3 linked regions of the Homo sapiens genome follow. The protein of the gene in region 1 interacts with the protein of each later gene in a biochemical or structural test. Each region holds a gene or a part of one and is shown in the gene's direction. Other genes may lie near its edges.

Evidence for each region. The genes of interacting proteins can lie anywhere in the genome.
Region 2: the proteins of MAPK8IP3 (region 1) and KLC1 form a complex in vitro, tested with the Homo sapiens proteins (one study listed by BioGRID).
Region 3: the proteins of MAPK8IP3 (region 1) and MAPK8IP2 form a complex in vitro, tested with the Homo sapiens proteins (one study listed by BioGRID).

The regions. Positions count from the first base shown.
Region 1 is NC_000016.10:1,744,194-1,751,228, forward strand, and holds part of MAPK8IP3 (C-Jun-amino-terminal kinase-interacting protein 3), read left to right. Parts: exon of another isoform or gene 1-2,396; coding exon of another isoform or gene 2,397-2,663; intron 2,664-2,835; coding exon 2,836-3,082; intron 3,083-4,050; coding exon 4,051-4,153; intron 4,154-4,408; coding exon 4,409-4,527; intron 4,528-7,035.
Region 2 is NC_000014.9:103,653,176-103,660,210, forward strand, and holds part of KLC1 (kinesin light chain 1), read left to right. Parts: intron 1-1,388; 5' UTR 1,389-1,389; coding exon 1,390-1,650; intron 1,651-4,370; coding exon 4,371-4,601; intron 4,602-7,035. UniProt on the Homo sapiens protein: Kinesin is a microtubule-associated force-producing protein that may play a role in organelle transport. The light chain may function in coupling of cargo to the heavy chain or in the modulation of its ATPase activity.
Region 3 is NC_000022.11:50,610,758-50,614,478, forward strand, and holds the end of MAPK8IP2 (C-Jun-amino-terminal kinase-interacting protein 2), read left to right. Parts: coding exon 1-22; 3' UTR 23-3,221; downstream 3,222-3,721. UniProt on the Homo sapiens protein: The JNK-interacting protein (JIP) group of scaffold proteins selectively mediates JNK signaling by aggregating specific components of the MAPK cascade to form a functional JNK signaling module.

The DNA.
Region 1 (7,035 bases):
GGACAGCCACCTTCCTGGGAAGAAGAGGTGACCCCGGGTCTGGTGGATTTCCCACAGGGGCCGTCAGAGGATGTCCACAGAGGCAGAGCCCTTGGGGCCTGTGGGCTGGGTTGGGCTGGTGGATGTGGGGCCTGGGACTTCTCCAGAAGCTTACTTCCTGCTGCATGCTTTGCCGACTGTCCTTCCACCTCTAAGTGTCCATCGTGCCTGTGGGGGCTGCTGCAGGCTCCTGCTCCGTCAGCCCACCTGCTGCTGCGCTGCTCTGGGAGCGAGCTCCCTCATGGCATCTGGAACGCTCTCCTGTCCTCCCTGTGCTCAGGGCTGGAGAGAGGGTGGCGGGGCTGCGGGCTCCCCGGGCCTTCTGGGCCCAGCCCTGCCACCTGGGCCCACCTCCTCTCACTGTCTCTGGCTCACGCTTCCCGGGCCTGGAGCTGGGACCTGCCCATAGGCATCTGAAGACACGTCAGCCTCAGCCGGGGGGAGCCCTTGCTTGACGCTCTCTGGCCTCCGGGCTGCCTCTCGCGCCCGCTCTGGGCCCGCTCTTCTTCTCATGATGTCTTTCCTTTCACCTCCTGCGTTGTCTGACATCGTCGCTCTCTTCATAAATTGTAGCGTTTTATGTTTTCGTTCATAGGAGTGTTTTATTTGATTTTTCTTTATTTTAAATTATTACATTTAAGTTCTTTTTATTTTATGCTCTAGGTTTTGAAGTTTTTCTAATTTCTTAATTTTTTTGTTGTTTTTTGTTTTGTTTTGTTTTTGTTTTTATGTACTGTATTTTCAGTGTTTTAACCAAACAGTTGTGGCTACTCATGGTGAGGAATGACCGCTAAGAGTTTGGGTTCTTTCAGTGCATTTGGAGGTCACTGCTACACGTTGATGTTTAGGAGGTTGAGAGGTTTGCCTTTAGGTAAGTTGTGGCCAGGGGGAGTGTCCCATGGGTAAGTGGTGGCCCTGTAGGGTGACGGAGAGCTAGGGGAGGCGCAATCAGACTGCAGAATTCCCCGCAGCCACCATGAGGGTCAGGAGCAGGCCGGGGACCCAGCGTGGAGGAAGGTGGCCCAGAAGCGTTTGTCTGATGTGCACAGCTACACCCTGCCTGGCCACATGGGGTTCCCTGTTTTCTCTCTGCCGGGTGGTGGCAGAGTCGGTGAGACACCAGGTGCCTGTGACACATTGGGTAGACAGGTTCTTTGAGAACGTCAGCACAGACTTCTTGCATGAGCGGTACTCGCTTCCTCCAGCGTGGGGAGTGACATGAAGAGCAAGGGTTTTCCTTTCAAACTGGGCATAGCTGCAGAGCCACAGGCCGTCTCAGACATTTCTACAAAGCCACTCCGGGAGGCGGGCTGCGCCCGTGTGAGGGCTCTCCCTCGGCACTGCTCATCTTTTGGGGCTGGACATGCATGGCCTGGGCCGCTGGGACGCGGTGGGTGTGGAGCAGCATCCCTGGCTTCCACCCACGAAAGCCAGGAGCACCCCCTTCATTTGTGACCACAAAAATGTCTCTGGACTTTGCAAGCATCCCCTCGGGGCAGTCAGCCCAACTGAGAATAGCTACTATAGAGGAAGGTGTGTCATTTTGAGATTCCTTCTAGAGAAACTTAGGAGCCTGGTAGATGAAGCAGAAATGTGTCCTCTGAGTGAGTGGCCGTGTCCGGTACTGAGAGGCCCCGTGCCCTGAGTCTGGCGGTGACCAGAGAGGCTGGGCAGAGGCAGAGGTCAGCACTGGCCATGACTTCTGGAAGTCCCGTCTGCCCTGGTCACTTAAAGGCCAGTATAAGTCAGCTGTGGAGAGGGCTGGATACCCCCTCGACAGCTCCTCCCTGGGTGAGATCCTTAGCATTAGAGTCCCCCACGGTGCGCCCTCTGAGAGACCACGGGAACCCACCCAGCGGCTGCCTGGGACAGGCACAGGAGCCACCTGGGTGCCTCTGAGGCCTTGCACTTTCCCACACCTCAAGGAGGGCCGGGGGCCACGGGCAAGCTCTGCCATAGCGGGTGATCAGGTCAGCTAAGACGAGAACGTTTGGGGCTCTTTTTCTCCAGCTGGTTCAGTATCTTTGTTAGGAAAGACCATTGGAAAGAATGTTTGTTTCGCATTCCGCATTAGTCACATAGAATGCGCTCCTCCCTAGCGAGCTTCCTGAGGTAGACGGCTGGTTGCGGTTTCTCGTAATCCGGGCTGCCCCCACCCTCCAGAATGTCTTGGTGGCGTCCCTTTCTGTGAGCAGGGATTGTGGTTTCTTTGCGCTTGCTCATGTTCAGGGGTGAGCTCTGGTCCAGTCAAGCCACAGGGTCAGCACCTTCTGGTCACTCCCTGGCCCTGACCTGAGCCCGGGGAGGAACGTGGGGCAGGCGCGGGTGGGCCCAGCCTCGAGCTCTTCAGCACAGTGATGGTGACGGGGCAGCGGTGGCGGCACAGCCAGCCCTTCTTGGGTCCCCAGTCAGAGCCCTCTGCCCTACCTGGGCTGGACTTGTTTCTGAACAGCCACAAGCTACAGGGGGCTGCCGCTGTGTCCCTGGCGAGGCACTGGCCCATTACAAGCAATCGTCTGGGGAGGGCACCAGTGGAAAGCCCCGTTCCAAGCCATTTCAGGAGGGTGGCCCTGCTTCCGAGGAGCCGGAGTCAGTGGCCGGATAAGCAGAGCCACTCGGGAGTGGTGAGGCCCGGAAGGGTTAGCCCGGTGGGCGGCAGAGGAGCTCTGGCCCGCAGGGTGTCGGGCGAGGCAAAGTGCAAAGCATTGGTGCGCGGGGCCTCAGGCAGCCACGGCGGAGCCGCAGGCCAGGGACCTGCAGTGACTCGCTCTCCCTCCTCCCTGTGTTTGGCCTTAGTGTCCACAGGATGAAATGTCCGAGTCAGGCCAGTCCTCGGCGGCCGCCACACCCAGCACCACAGGCACCAAGTCCAACACGCCCACATCCTCCGTGCCCTCGGCCGCCGTCACACCCCTCAACGAGAGCCTGCAGCCCCTGGGGGACTATGGCGTGGGCTCCAAGAACAGCAAGCGTGCCCGGGAGAAGCGCGACAGCCGCAACATGGAAGTACAGGTCACCCAGGAGATGCGCAACGTCAGTATAGGTGGGTGCCCACCTCCGGGACTCTGGGCTCCCTCGGGCAGGAGGCAGGGCTTGGTTTGGGTAGATGTGAAACTAATGCACCAGGCGGGCAGTGCAGGCAGCAGAGACGTGTTCCTCACAGCCCGGAGGCTGGGGTCCAAGATCAAGGCGCTGGCAGGGTAGGTTCCTCCTGCGGCCACTCCTTGGCTTGTAGACACCACCTTCTCCCTGTGTCCTCAACAGGCATCCCCTGGGTGTGTCTGTGTCCTCATCTCCAGCTCCTACAAGGACATAGCCCCATTGGATTAGAGCCACCACGTGACCTCATTTTACCATAATCACCTCTTGAAAGGCCCAGCCTCCAAATACAGTCATGCTAGGGGGTATCTATTAACATATGGATTTGGGGAGACACAACTAAGGCAGTAGCCTGCGTCACCCCACGGCACACAGCCCCACTAACCAGTAACCTGCATCGCCCCACGGCACACAGCCCCACTAACCAGTAACCTGCATCGCCCCACGGCACACAGCCCCACTAACCAGTAACCTGCATCGCCCCACGGCACACAGTCCCACTAACCAGTAGCCTACGTCACCCCATGGCACACAGCCCCACTAACCAGTAACCTGCGTTGCCCCACGGCACACAGGCCAGTGAGGGAAAGAGAAGAGGGGAATGAGGGCCGAGAGGAGGTCCAGCCACTGGCTTGCTTGGACGTGGGATCTCTGGGGACTGGGCTTACTGCTGACACTCCCATGCAGAGAGGCTGCTGCAACCCACCCCGCTCCAGGCCCCGCCTCAGACGTCTACTGTGCTGGGGTTCGACCTCTGCCCAGTCAGCCTGGGAAGAGCTGTTTTCTGATCATCCCCACCTAGCAGGTGGTCCAGCTCCAGCCCACCAGACTCAGGTTCCGAGGGCAGCCGTGAGCAGGGCAGAGGCTGCCAGACCCTCTCCTGACCCCAGGTGCCCCTGTGCTCTCCCCTAGGCATGGGCAGCAGTGACGAGTGGTCTGATGTTCAAGACATTATTGACTCCACGCCAGAGCTGGACATGTGTCCAGAGACCCGCCTGGACCGCACAGGAAGCAGGTACTGGCTCAGCCCAGGCCCTGGGGTCCTGGGGGCTCAGTATTTATCCAAGTCGGTGTCTTTGGTGAAGTCTTCCTCTGCCACCACTGGGAGAACCATCAAGGCTGTGGCCTACCGCCTCCATCCACGACCGGCCTGCAGGGCAGTGTGGGCATTGAATGGCCACGGTGGGAGGTGTTGGAAGAGTCTGCAGACGCAGCCACTCCGGGCTGCCCACTGACTCTGCTCTCTCTCCCGACCTGTGGATCCCAACAGCCCAACCCAGGGCATCGTGAACAAAGCTTTCGGCATCAACACCGACTCCCTGTACCATGAGCTGTCGACGGCAGGGTCTGAGGTCATCGGGGATGTGGACGAAGGGGCCGACCTCCTAGGTAAGCGCAAGCCTTCCCCCGCACCGCTGTGCCTGCACAATGCTGGGGCTTTCTGCTGTTGGTTTTGTTTGTAATGAAAGGAAAGTCCTCTGTCAGCTGTGAGCTAGGAACCTTTTTTTTTCCAGCTTTGTTGAGTTGCGTTTCACATGGAATTGTCCCTCCATCTCCACAGGGGATTGGTTTCTGGACTGCCCCAAGGATGCCAAAATCTGAGGCTTCTCAAGTCCCTGCTCTGAAGTGGTGTAGTGTTTGCACCCTCCCGTGTACTCTAAATCACCTCTAGGTTATGTTGTAGATGCTGTGTAAGTAGTTGCTGTTATGCTGTGTCGTTTAGGGAATAATGACAGGAAAAAAGTGTACACGTCAGTACAGACACGGCCACCACAGGCCTGTACATTTTCTGTGAGGCTGGTTGAATCCACACATGCAGAACTCGTGGGTATTGAGGGTCGACTGTATCATAAAATTCACCCGCTTCGAGTGCACGGTGCGGTGGGTTACAGCGTACTCACAGGTGGGGCAGCCACCCCCATGATCTCAGTTTAGAATGTTCCGCCATCCCTAAAAGAAATCCATGCCTGTTAGCCTCGCCCCATCTTCTGCACACACCCTCAGGGCTGCCAACTCTCCAGGAGGTTGGGAGGGTGCCCGCTTCTCTGCTCTGTGCCCATTAGCCTCGCCGCACACCCTAGGACCATTGACTTTGGAGGAGGTTGGGAGGGTGCCCACTTGCCCACTCCTCCGCAGACAGCCCTGGCTTCACCTCAGCGCCACAGGTCTACACCGGACCCCTGTGCCTAGGTCTGTGGCGGCTGCAAACATCAGGACCTGCTTCCTGTCAGCACGTGGAGTCTCCTGTGCTCATGGCATCTGCTGGCAGCTGAGCACTGGCCATGTGGCTCTGAGCCCCAGGCTTTCAGGCATGACAGGCGGGCAGTAGGACAGCGCAGTCTGTCCCCTTGCACGCGTCAGGGTCCGAGCCTTTCGCCATGGCCTTGCTTCCCCCAGCCCGCAGGGTGAGAAGCTCCTGGATCCCAGGCTGCCTCCTGGTGTACTCCTGAGCTGATTGTCTTATCTGGGGCAGGGGGACCTCCAGGGAGCAGAGTAATGTGGGGTGCTGAGCACCAGCAGGGCCTCACCCTGACAGGGAGGCCTGTCTCATCCTGGCTTGAGTCAGAAAGTGCCCCAGTAGAGGCCATGTATGAGTAACATAATATTCACCATGTTAACCGAGTTGAAGTGTTCAGTTCAGTAGTGTTGGACACACTGTACTTGGTGGTGAAAGATGGAATGCTCCCCGAGATCAGGACGGCGGTGAGGGCGCACTTTGGTGCTGTGAATTTTCTGTGGAACTTTTCTCATGTGTTGCAAAAATATATATAAAAAATCCAAAGGAGATTAATCTTCAGAAAAATCCTGCTAAATAGGGGTAATCTCTTTTAATATTTTGCTATCCTTCCACTCTACATAATTCAGATAATGTTTATTTATTTATTTATTTATTTATTTCTTAGACAAAGTCCCGCTCTGTCGCCAGGCTGGAATGCAGTGGCGCCATCTTGGCTCACTGCAACCTCCGCCTCCCAGGTTCAAGCAATTCTCCTGTCTCCGCCTCCCAAGTAGCTGGAATTAGAGGCACGCGCCACCACGCCCGGCTAATTTTTGTATTTTTAGTGCAGACGGGGTTTCACAATATTTGCCAGGCTGGTCTTGAACTCCTGACCTCCGGTGATCCACCCGCCTCAGGCTCCCAAAGTACTGGGATTACAAGTGTGAGCCACCATGCCCGGCCGATAATGTATATTTTTTAGCTATTTTTTTTATTTTTTGAAAAAATTATATATGCTTATAATAATATTTAAATAATATCAGCAAATGCCAAGAAGAGAGTAAAAACCAGAGGGAACCTCCCCACCATGCTATAATGATTTTTTTTTTTTTTGAGACGGAGTCCCACTTTGTGGGCCAGGCTGGAGTGCAGTGGTGCGATCTCGGCTCACTGCAACCTCTGCCTTCCCGGGTTGAAGCAATTCTCCTGCCTCAGCCTCGTGAGTAGCTGTGATTACAGGCATGCACCACCATGCCCAGGTAATTTTTGTATTTTTAGTAGAGATGGGGTTTCACAGTGTTGGTCAGGCTGGTTTTGATCTCCTGACCTTGTGATCCACCCGCCTCGGCCTCCCAGAGTGCTGGGATTACAGGCGTGAGCCACCACTCCTGGCCGATTGTTTTAATGTCTTGGTGACACCTACCAGACACCATGGCCCATGGCCCACAGAGGTATGACACATGTGTACGCAGAACACACAGTGTCAGGTCGCAGCTGCCCTTCTCATTGTGGGCGGTGTCATTTCCGTGGGTGGCAGCACTGACGGGCACGGCCACCGTCGGTCCTTACTGCAGCATCAAGCCGCCCTCCTGCCAGTGTCCCCATTTATAGATGAAGAAACTGAGGCCGGGCACAGTGGCTCATGCCCGTAATCCCAGCACTTTGGGAGGCCGAGGCGG
Region 2 (7,035 bases), on another chromosome or scaffold:
CTCCGTCACCCAGGCTAGAGTGCAGAGGTACCATCATAGCTGACTGTCACCTCAAATTCCTGGACTCAAGCGATCCTTGTGCCTCACTGAGCCTCCTGGGTAGCAAGGAATACCTGCACATACCACCCAGCTAATTTTACTTCATTTATTTTTATTTATTTATTTAGGCAGAGTCTCGCTCTGTCACCCAGGCTGGAGTGCAGTAGTGAGATCTTGGCTCACTGCAACCTCTGCCTCCCGGGCTCAAGTGATTCTCGTGCCTCAGCCCCCTGAGTAGCTGGGACCACAGGCGTGTGCCAGCACACTCACCTAATTTTTGTATTTTTAGTTGAGACAGGGTTTCGCCGTGTTGGCCGGCTGGTTTTGAACTCCTGCCATCAAGTGATCCGCCTGCCTTGGCCTCCCAAAGTGCTGGAATTATAGGAATGAGCCACCATGCCTGGCTGTCCTGCCTTTTTAAATAAGAGCTTATATTCAAGGTGACATTAGACACTTAATGAATCGTGAGATTTTAGACAGTGGCAGTGCTGTGAAGGAAATAACTCTGACGTGTAATCTTGCCTCCATCCCTGTCACTGTGCCGAAAAAGATCACTGCTCACTATCTTTCTGTTTTTTAAACTTAACTATGGGTTTTTAAGACTTAGAAAAAAGGAGAGAGGCTAGCAGAGGGAACCATTGCTCAGTGACAGCGGCTGTCAGGCACAACAGCACAAATGATGCTGTTTTTATATTCCCCTTTCCTCCCCCTTTTCTTTCTCACTTTGGTGTTTGAAAGCCCCTTCCAGACATTGCATCACATCACCCTGGGCCTGGCCCTGGTGGTGCTTCGCTGTGCCATCCTCATCTGTGAGCCTGCCCGGTGACCGTGCTGCACCTGTCCTTGATGCCCTGTGTCTTCCAGGTCTGCTCCTCCCCTGCTGCTCTTCCTGTTCCATGTTCTTTGGCTGGTTTTTCTTTCTTCTTCCAGCTGTGTGACTCCTTTTCAAGCCTTTGTCCAGTTAAACATTTTACCAAGAATGTAGTGTTCTTCCTGCATTTCATTAGGAAGAGAAAAAGGCTTGCAAACATTCTGAGAAAAAATGTTGTTCACCGAGGCTATGTGTTTTGGAAATGCCATTTAGATGTTTTGCTGCTTTTAATCTTTGGCATTAATTTCAGTTGCTGTCATAAAAAAGAATTAAGACATAAACCAGAAAAGTAATTAAATGTGTCTGCAAAGGAAAAACAGAAACTGCAGAATATGGTATTTCAAGGTCATAAATTACAAATGTGCATATTTATTATTCCCCTATAAAATGTTAATTAAAAAATTTTCATATTTACTTGATGTAACAGAAATGAAACCTGTAATGAGGGATCTAATTTCTTTTTCTTTTTTCATTCCAGAATGTATGACAACATGTCCACAATGGTGTACATAAAGGAAGACAAGTTGGAGAAGCTTACACAGGATGAAATTATTTCTAAGACAAAGCAAGTAATTCAGGGGCTGGAAGCTTTGAAGAATGAGCACAATTCCATTTTACAAAGTTTGCTGGAGACACTGAAGTGTTTGAAGAAAGATGATGAAAGTAATTTGGTGGAGGAGAAATCAAACATGATCCGGAAGTCACTGGAGATGTTGGAGCTCGGCCTGAGTGAGGCACAGGTACGAGTGAGAATGACTCAGACGTTATCAGGAACTTTTGATGGTAAAATGGAGACTTGTTTGAAATAAGCAGTTTCACTAAAGAAGAGGAAAGATGATTATAGAATAACAGATCCAGGCCGAGTGCGGTGTGGCTCAGGCCTGTAATCCAAGCACTTTGGGAGGCTGAGGCAGGTGGATCACTTGAGGTCAGGAGTTTGAGACCAGCCTGGCCAACATAGCGAAACCCTGACTCTACTAAAAATACAAAAATTAGCCGGGCCTGGTGGCTGGCGTGTGTAATCCAGCTACTAGGCAGGCTTGAGGCAGGAGAATCACTTGAACCTGGGAGGCAGAGGTTGCAGGGAGCCAAAATTGCATCACTGCACTCCAGCCTGGGTGACAGAGCGAGACTTTTTCTCAAAGAAAAAACAAAACAAAACAGATCATGTGTTCTGTATGTTAATAAATTACTATTGATTTGGGCCTATCAGAATTGTATTGATTGATTGATTGAGATGGAGTTTTGCTCTTGCTGCCCAGGCTGGAGTGCAGTGATGCAGTCTCGGCTCACTGCATCCTCTGCCTCCTGGGCTCAAATGATTCTCCTGCCTCAGCCTCCCAAGTAGCTGGGATTACAGGCATGGGCCACCACACCTGGCTAATTTTGTATTTTTAGTAGAGACAGGGTTTCTCCATGTTGGTTAGGCTGGTCTTGAACTCCCAACCTCACGTGATCCACCTGCCTCAGCAAAGTGTTGGGATTACAGGCGCGAGCCACCATGCCCGGCCTCTGAATTTTATTTTTATTTTTATTTTTTTGAGACAGTGTTTGCTCTCGCCGCCCAGGCTGGAGTGCAATGGCTCAATCTCAGATCACTGCAACCTCTGTCCCCCGGGTTCAAGTGATTCTCCTGCCTCAGCCTCCCAAGTAGCTGGGATTACAGGCACATACCACCATTCCTGGCTAATTTTTTGTATTTTTAGTAGAAACTAAAATGTTGGCCAGGCTGGTCTTGAACTCCTGACCTCAGGGCCTCTCTGAATTTTGAAAAGCGGATCCAAAATAGTGGATACTGCTGTGTATCATTTAGGATTTGATTTGGCTGCCAGTATCAAAAAAACAAAAACAGTGGCTTAAACCACAAGATGTTTGTCAAATAAGTACTGAGGTACACTCTCCTGGACGGGTTCTGTAGCTACACAGTCATCGGGGATACTCAGGTTCCTAACATCTGCCACACTGCACCTTGGCAGCCTGTCTTGGGGACTGAGAGTGAGCTCCATGTGGCCCTGTTCTAGCATAGGGGAAGGGAAAGGAAGGACGTGCCTCCTTCCTTGAAGGCTGCTGCTTTGATGATGTGTACAGCAGTGCTTACATTGCATTGGCCAGACCTTATGGCTGTACCTGGGTGAGTGGGAGACTGGGGAATGTTGTCTTCCCACTTACAGTGGCAGGTCCTTAAGCCTAAGGAAGGAGAATGGACACTGGCCAGTGGGTGATGGTCTCTGCAATCCCAGGGCCAGATTGCTTCATATCTTTGACTAACCTTTGTTTCTATAATATCATGCTTGACATAGAGATGAAAACACTGGAAACATCTAGGTTTTTAAATACTCTCTCCTGATAACTTCTGGCTCTGTCAGCATATCTTAGGTAAAATTAAATATACCAAAGCTTTGCTTCTTTCTTAGCATTCTCTAGTTTAGTGAGTGAATAGAGCAGAAGAGGGGCTGCTGGCCAGCGGTTTCTGCTTTCATAGAGGAAGTGACTGCCCACACCCTGATTTTAGAGTCTTCATCCTAACCATGTTACAGCCTTGAGTTGCAGAACTGTAGCTCTGTTTGGATATTGTGAACGTATTATTTCTCAAGTTCTGTTACCTTGAGAACAGGTGACATGAATTTAAACTTGCTTTTTTGGTGTCGCAGATAAGAGTTTTAAAAAAAGAAGGAAGAAAAGGTCCCACCTTCTGGAGTTTCAGGTTTTAAACCTAGGAGGATAATAACCTGGTTATTATGTTATGAGAGGGATGGGCAGATGTATGTTCTAAAGAGAGAACAGATTGCTGCCAGCCAGCTCCTAGCTGTTTGTGCTCTTATGCTCCTAGGAACTTGCCACAGCCTCACGCTGGTCTGTTCCAGAAACCAGTGAGCACTCTGTAGGCAGAGCCCTGGAGTGGCCCCTGGATTTTATGACATAAACATAAGCTTATGAGTGCACCAGTGCATTCTTACTCTTGGTGGTAGCTACAGAGATGTCTTCTCTCACCTTGGAACATCAAGGAAGATTTGTATGTGCACTGTTCTCTGACCCCCACTTGCAGCCCTTCACCAACATGCACTCTGTGCGCAGACATGCATGTGTGTACACGAGGTCTTACACATGGGAAAGGGTCTATAAAAAATTATGTTGGGCCCATCTTGATAGAAAGTAAAATAATACAGTTTCATCAGAAGGGTAGCTGTGTTTTCATTGCTAGTTCATTTGGCATGCTCTTCAAAAAAATAAGTATTTTTTTGTAGGCATTCTGAGCGTGTGATATTCTTTATCATACCCTGCTTTGTAGTCTGTGGCTGAAGGGGAAAAGAGAAGTAAATGGCAGATTGTACTTATATGTACTTTGGAGAAAATATCTGCGAGTGTAAGCTACAGCCCCAGCCACAGAATGTTCGCACGGGTGGGAGGGACTCTTGCTGGACAACGTGCCACAGTGCTGCACACGTTTCTGTCTGCTCAGGTTATGATGGCTTTGTCAAATCACCTGAATGCTGTGGAGTCCGAGAAGCAGAAACTGCGTGCGCAGGTTCGTCGTCTGTGCCAGGAGAATCAGTGGCTACGGGATGAACTGGCCAACACGCAGCAGAAACTGCAGAAGAGTGAGCAGTCTGTGGCTCAACTGGAGGAGGAGAAGAAGCATCTGGAGTTTATGAATCAGCTAAAAAAATATGATGACGACATTTCCCCATCCGTGAGTGGCTCTGTAGCAAATGTGGTGCTAATGTTTAAAATGGAGTCACTGGGAAAGTCATAGAGGTTCTGTTTGCCATATTCTTTTCATATTAGAACATATTAGAACATTAGAACATGCAAAAATGTTTTGTAAATATAAGCCACAATCCAGAGAGACACCATTACCTTCAACAAGGTCTGCCCCGAGGTCTGTCCCGAGGTCTGCCCCAGCTTAGGCTCTGGAGCTTCCTTGCCCCTCTGTAGCTTGGCTTCCATGCCATCAGCTGCTGGTCTAGCAGTGGTCCAATCTGGCCGTCTGAATTTGGACTCTGGGCAACCTCTCTGCCCCTTAGGGTGGGTGCTCTTGGCATTGCCATTCTCTTTGAAACTCCCCTGGCCCTCTGGACACCACCTGGCTCTCTTGCCGCCTCTCTCATCCTCCCCTTGGCTTCCCTTGCCAGCTTATCTTTCTGTATCTGCAGGGGAAGAAACGATCTTGGTTTTCTTCTTCTTCTTTTTTTTACAAGGAGTCTCGCTCTGTCACTCAGGCTGGAGTGCAATGGCACAATCTTGGCTTACTGCAACCTCCATCTCCCGGGTTCATGTGATTCTCCTGCCTCAGCCTCTGGAGTAGCTGGGATTACAGGTGTGTGACACCATGCCCAGCTAAGTTTTTTTTTTTTTTTTTTTTTTTTTTAGTAGAGATGAGGTTTCACTGTTTTGGCCAGGCTGGTCTTGAACTCCTGGCCTCAAGTGATCTGCCCACCTCAGCCTCCCAAAGTGCTGGTATTCCAGGTGGGAGCCACCATGCCCAGCCTTCTTTCTCTGTTGGCTCTATTTGGATGTTTATCCTAGTCTCAGTTATTTTTCATTCAACATTTATTTCTGATTCAGTTAACTTTTTTTTTTTTTTTTTTTGAGATGGAGTCTCACTCTGTCACCCAGGCTGGAGTGCAGTGGCACGATCTTGGCTCACTGCAACCTCCACCTCCCGGGCTCCAGCGATTCTCCTGCCTCAGCCTCCCGAGTAGCTGGGACTACAGGTGTGTGCCACCACGCCTGGCCAATTTTTTGTATTTTTAGTAGAGATAGGGTTTCATTGCGTTAGCCAGGATGGTCTTGATCTCCTGACCTTGTGATCTGCCTGCCTCGGCCTCCCAAAGTGCTGGGATTACAGGTGTGAGCCACTGCGCCCAGCCAGTTAACTTCTTTTTATTTTTTTTTTTACTTTTTTTTTGAGACGAAGTCTCGCTTTTGTACCCCAGGCTGGAGTGCAATGGCGCGATCTTGGCTCACTGCAGCCTCCACCTCCTGGGTTCAAGCGATTCTCCCTTCTCAGCCTTCCAAGTAGCTGGGATTACAGGTGCGTACCGCCACGACTGGCTAATTTTTGTATTTTAAGTAGAGATGGGGTTTCACCATGTTGGCCACTCCTGACCTCAGGTCATCCCCCCGCCTCGGCCTCCCAAAGTGCTGGGATTACAGGCGTGAGCCACCACGACCGGCTTCAGTTAACTTCTTTTTAAAGAAAATTTCTAAATTTTGGAATTATTTTATTTTACTTATTTTTAATTTTAAAAATTTTACCCTCCTCTCAAGTTTCCAATGGAATAATTTTAAATTGATTGAAAAGTTGAAAAGTTAGAGAAGAAAATTGATGTGCCCATAACCCAGTCTCCCCTGATCGTCCATAATCATAGAACAGTGGTCAGAACTAAGATATTAACATCAACACTTTACTGTTAACTGAAACACAGACTTGGTTGGATGTCACCAGGCCTTCCACTAGTATCTCTTTTCTGTGCTAGGACCTAGTCCAGTGTTCCACATTGCATTTGGAACTAACGTTTTTTAAATACCTGTATGATGCCAGACATGTTCATGTACATAATCAGAATACTAGAGAGGTGCACATTTGTGTGTCTCGTTCGAATCCCCATCCTAAGACTACTGAAACAGTTTTTTGCGTAGCACCAGCAAACCTGCATTTCCCCTCTGTCTTCATCTGCTTGGGCTACTGTAACAAATACCACGGGCTGGATGGCTTAACATTTATTTTCTCATAGTTCTGGAAGTCCGAGATCAGGGTACCAGCAGGGTCCGGTTCTGGGGAGGGCCTTCTTTCTGGCTTGCAGACTGCTGCCATCTCTTTGTGTTCTCATATGGTACAGAGAGAGAGGGAGTAAGCTCTCTGGTGTCTCTTTTTATGAGGGCACTAATCCCATCATGAGGGCCCCACACTTTCGAGCTCATCTTATCCTGATCACCTCCCAAAGGTTTCATCTCTAAATACCATTACACTGGGGGTTAGGGCTTTAACATAGGAATTTGGGGAGAACACAGTTTAGTTGACAGCATGCTATTTCAAAAGGCTTACCAAAATCCTCCCTCACATCTCCTCTAGGTTAGGGGCCAACTAAATGTTTTGATTTAAAAGATGTGGCTGGGCGCAG
Region 3 (3,721 bases), on another chromosome or scaffold:
GGAGGACATCTACCTGGAGTAGCCTGCCCACCGCTCTGTCTCCTGGCCGTCTGCTCCAGGCGCAGCTGGGGCTGAGGATGTCTCAAGAGGCCACCATGGCTTTGGCAAGGACTGGATTGGGGGGACATGGGACCTTACGCTTGTGGGGGTCTGCGGGCTGGGAACTCTCGTCCTCGGTCCCCAGGGCGCAGCTGTTGGGGCTGCGGGGGAGTGGAGCCCCCGTGCCCCTGCTTTTCCTCAGATCCGTTCTTTCTCTGTGTTGTCCTCCTCCTTCCCTTCCCAGTCTCCCTTTTCTCTCTCCTGGTGTCTCTGCCCCTCTCTGTGCCTGCAAACCTTATCCTCTATTCTTCACTTTGGGGTCAGAACTTCGGGGGTGTGGAGGAGGTGCGGCTCTAGGGACAGGTAATGTCGGCTTCCAAGTGATGCCCTCCTGCCACTCCCCTGCGATTTATAAGGGAATTTTAATTTTTATAGTGAATCTCAAGGGATCATCCCATCCTTGACCACAGGGACAAGAGGGGCCCCCTCGCCCCAGCCCCACCCCACATGGAGCTCAGGGGGAAGCAGGGAGGGGTTCCCAAAAGAGCCCTGCGGAGGCTAGGAGTGGTTCTTGATGCTCACCTGAAGCCCCTAGACGCTGCTAGGAGGGGGGGCCCTCCTGGGCCCCCAATACCCCTCCGCTTGCCGCTGCTAGCGCACCCCTGCAGTCCAGCGTGCATCCACCCCACGCACGCCCCGTGCTGTGTTCCTGGGCCCTGCCCATGGCCTCAATAAACTCTCTGCTTGGTGTGACATTGGCTGTTTCTAGAGGGTGCTAAGACATGGGGCCAGGTGCCCAGGGGCTGCCCATTGTGGTAGGGACAGAGTCCCCAGTGGCGGGAGTGTTGTGGCAATCTCACCCTTTTAGCTCTTTCCGAAATTGTGCCGGGGGTCCCTGCGGTGCTGCTCTGGGGCCTTATCTGAGGTGCCGTATCTAGAAGCACCCTTGGGAATTCTCCCTAGATACACTCGATTGGCCACAGAGGAATCCGAGGCTGTGCAATGGGGTGTCCTTTCCACGTGCACGGACTGGGGGCCAGCACGGCTCAGGTCAGTGTGTAGTGGGGGCATGAACTCCTTGAAGAACAATCTGGCCGGGCACGGTGGCTCACGCTTGTAATCCCAACACTTTGGGAGGCCGAGCCGGGGCGTATCACCTGAGGTCAGGAGTTTGAGACCAGCTTGGCCAACATGGTGAAACCCCATCTCCACAAAAAATACAAAAATTAGCTAGGTGTCCTGGCGCACACCTGTAATCCCAGCTACTCAGGAGGCTAAGGCATGAGAATCGCTTGAACCTGGGAGGCGGAGGTTGCAGTGAGCCAAGATTGCACCACTGCACTCCAGCCTGGGCGACAGAGGGAGACTCCGTCTCAGAAAAAGGAAAAGAAAAACAATCTACTTAGATCTTAAAATGGATATTTAAAAAATTCTCCAGAGAAAGCCAGAAGAAAATAGGTGACTTTTTCACTATGTGCTTAGGTGACTGCAGATGCCCGGCAATGTTCCCTCCCAGGCCCTCCTGGGTGAGCCCGCCTCCCAGGCAGGGGTCAGCATGGCCGGGGTCCCTCTGTCTGAGCCCAGGATTCGTGCAACACCAGGAAGACAACAGTTGAAGGTTCCTTAGTGAGCTAAGGGAAGTATACACAAACTTACTACATAAACATTAGAAAGTGCTGTCCGTAAAAAACACGTCTTCACAGAGCCAACAAGCAGAGAAATAGCTGCCCAGTGTTAGGAAGTGCATCATGATCCAGAGGTTCAGCCCGTGTGCAGCGCACAGACCTGAGGCCCCAGAGAGACCGAGGACGCAGACCAGTGGCACGACGGAAACGCAGAACGTTTATGAGAAAACTTTCCTACTAATTGAGATAAAGCTGTAAAGAGGCAGATAGCCCCACTGGGTGTGTACGTTTGAAACTTGTGCCCCCTGGGCTAGGGCATTCGGGGTGTGGCCCTCAGTCCCCTGTAGCTGCTGCCTGGAAACCGCTGCCACCCACCCACCTCCTCCCTCTGCTCTTCCACTCAGGTGAGAATTCTCCAAGCCCTGCCCTCCGGCGCCCCCGTCCCGCCCCTGCCCGGCCTGGCCCCGCCCCTGCCCGGCCCCGCCCCCCAACGTGTCTTCAGGTCTCTTTCCCTCCAGCCGGCCCTTAGGACGGCTGTTGGACGTGCTCGTGAGTCCTTCGCCTGTCTGCCTTCCACCTCTCTGCAGCTCCTTCTCCAATCTCATGGTCTTCTTGAGCTTGGCCGCCCTCCACGCCCCATGCTGGGCTTGGTCGGTTCTGGGGTCTACCTCTCTGGCTTCATCCCTCCCACAGTTTCGAGGGTTTCCCTGTGCTCAGGCCCCTGGCAGCCGCCCCCTGTGCAGACCACTGGGCAGATCCAGCTGACCTCCAGGGGCACTTCCTCGGCTCATCACTGGGCCGGTGCTCTGCAGAATGAGCTGTGAGAGCCACTGTGGCTGGCCAGAGGGTGCCACTCACAGTCACTTCAGACTCACAGGAGCCTTCGTCCCGACCCCTGCATTCATCTGTGTTCTGTTTTATGTTTTTTCCCAGTCACCTGAGCTGCAGGCCTTGGTCACCCCAGACTCCTCCCTCCTGTCACCCTTATCCTCACCCCAGCACCTTTACGTCTGCCCCAGGCTCCATTTCCCCCTCTTCTGCCTGGATCAAACCACCCTGACTTTCCTGGGTCTTCGTGCAACAGCCTGCTCCGGCCGCTGCCTCACTGCACCTGCAAATCCACTTGCACCCACACCCAGGCCAGGGTTTTTAAACAGAAGCCTCAGCAGATCCCTCTCTCTGGCCAGCTCCCTGTTGAACCAGGAAGCAGGTCCCTGTTGAACCTCAGCATGACCCGCCCCCACCCCTGCATCCCACTTCTGCTCTGGGAGCCTCTGGGTTCCTGGGCGCACCTGCTGCCCTTCCCTGTTTGTCACTGGGTGACCTCCCGTCCTTGTGGGCGCTCCCGGGCCCTGGTCTCGGGCCTTCTGAGGACTTGCTCTCCTGGTAGCGGCTGCTGACTGTGAGCCCAGAGAGCAGGCGTGGCTGTTGACCTTAGGTCCTCCCAGAACCTGGCGGATCGCCTGGCTCCCAGGCAGGAGGCGCTGCATGACGCCTCCAACTTCCGCCAATCTAGCCCAAGGATGGCGTTCTAAATAAAACGCGTTCTACAGAAAAGTGTTTATTGCATTCTTCTTTGAAATAATGTAAGCATAAAAGTAATCTGAATATTGACCAATAGGGTTAATTGATTAAGGTATATTTACCTAATTGAAATATTGGGTAGATGTGAAAAAAAGTTCCAATGTTTGTAATTACACAGAAAATTTCTGTTATGCTATTAAGTGGAAATAAATTTCTGGGCACAGCAGCTCATGCTACTGTGTAATCTTAGCAATTTGGGAGGCCAAGGTGGGCAGATCCCTTGAGTCTGGGAGTTCGAGACCAGCCTGAGCAACAAAGCGAAACCTCTATCTCTACAAAAAAAAAAAAAAAAAAATACAAAAATTATCTAGGTGTGGTGGCACACACCTGTAGTCCCAGTTACTTGGGTGGGTAAGGGAGGAGGATAGCTTGAGCCTAGGAGGTTGAGGCTGCAGTGAGCCATGATCATGCCACCACACTCTGGCTGGAAAGAGCAAGACCCTGTAACCACAATGAAAGAAAAGAAGAGAGAG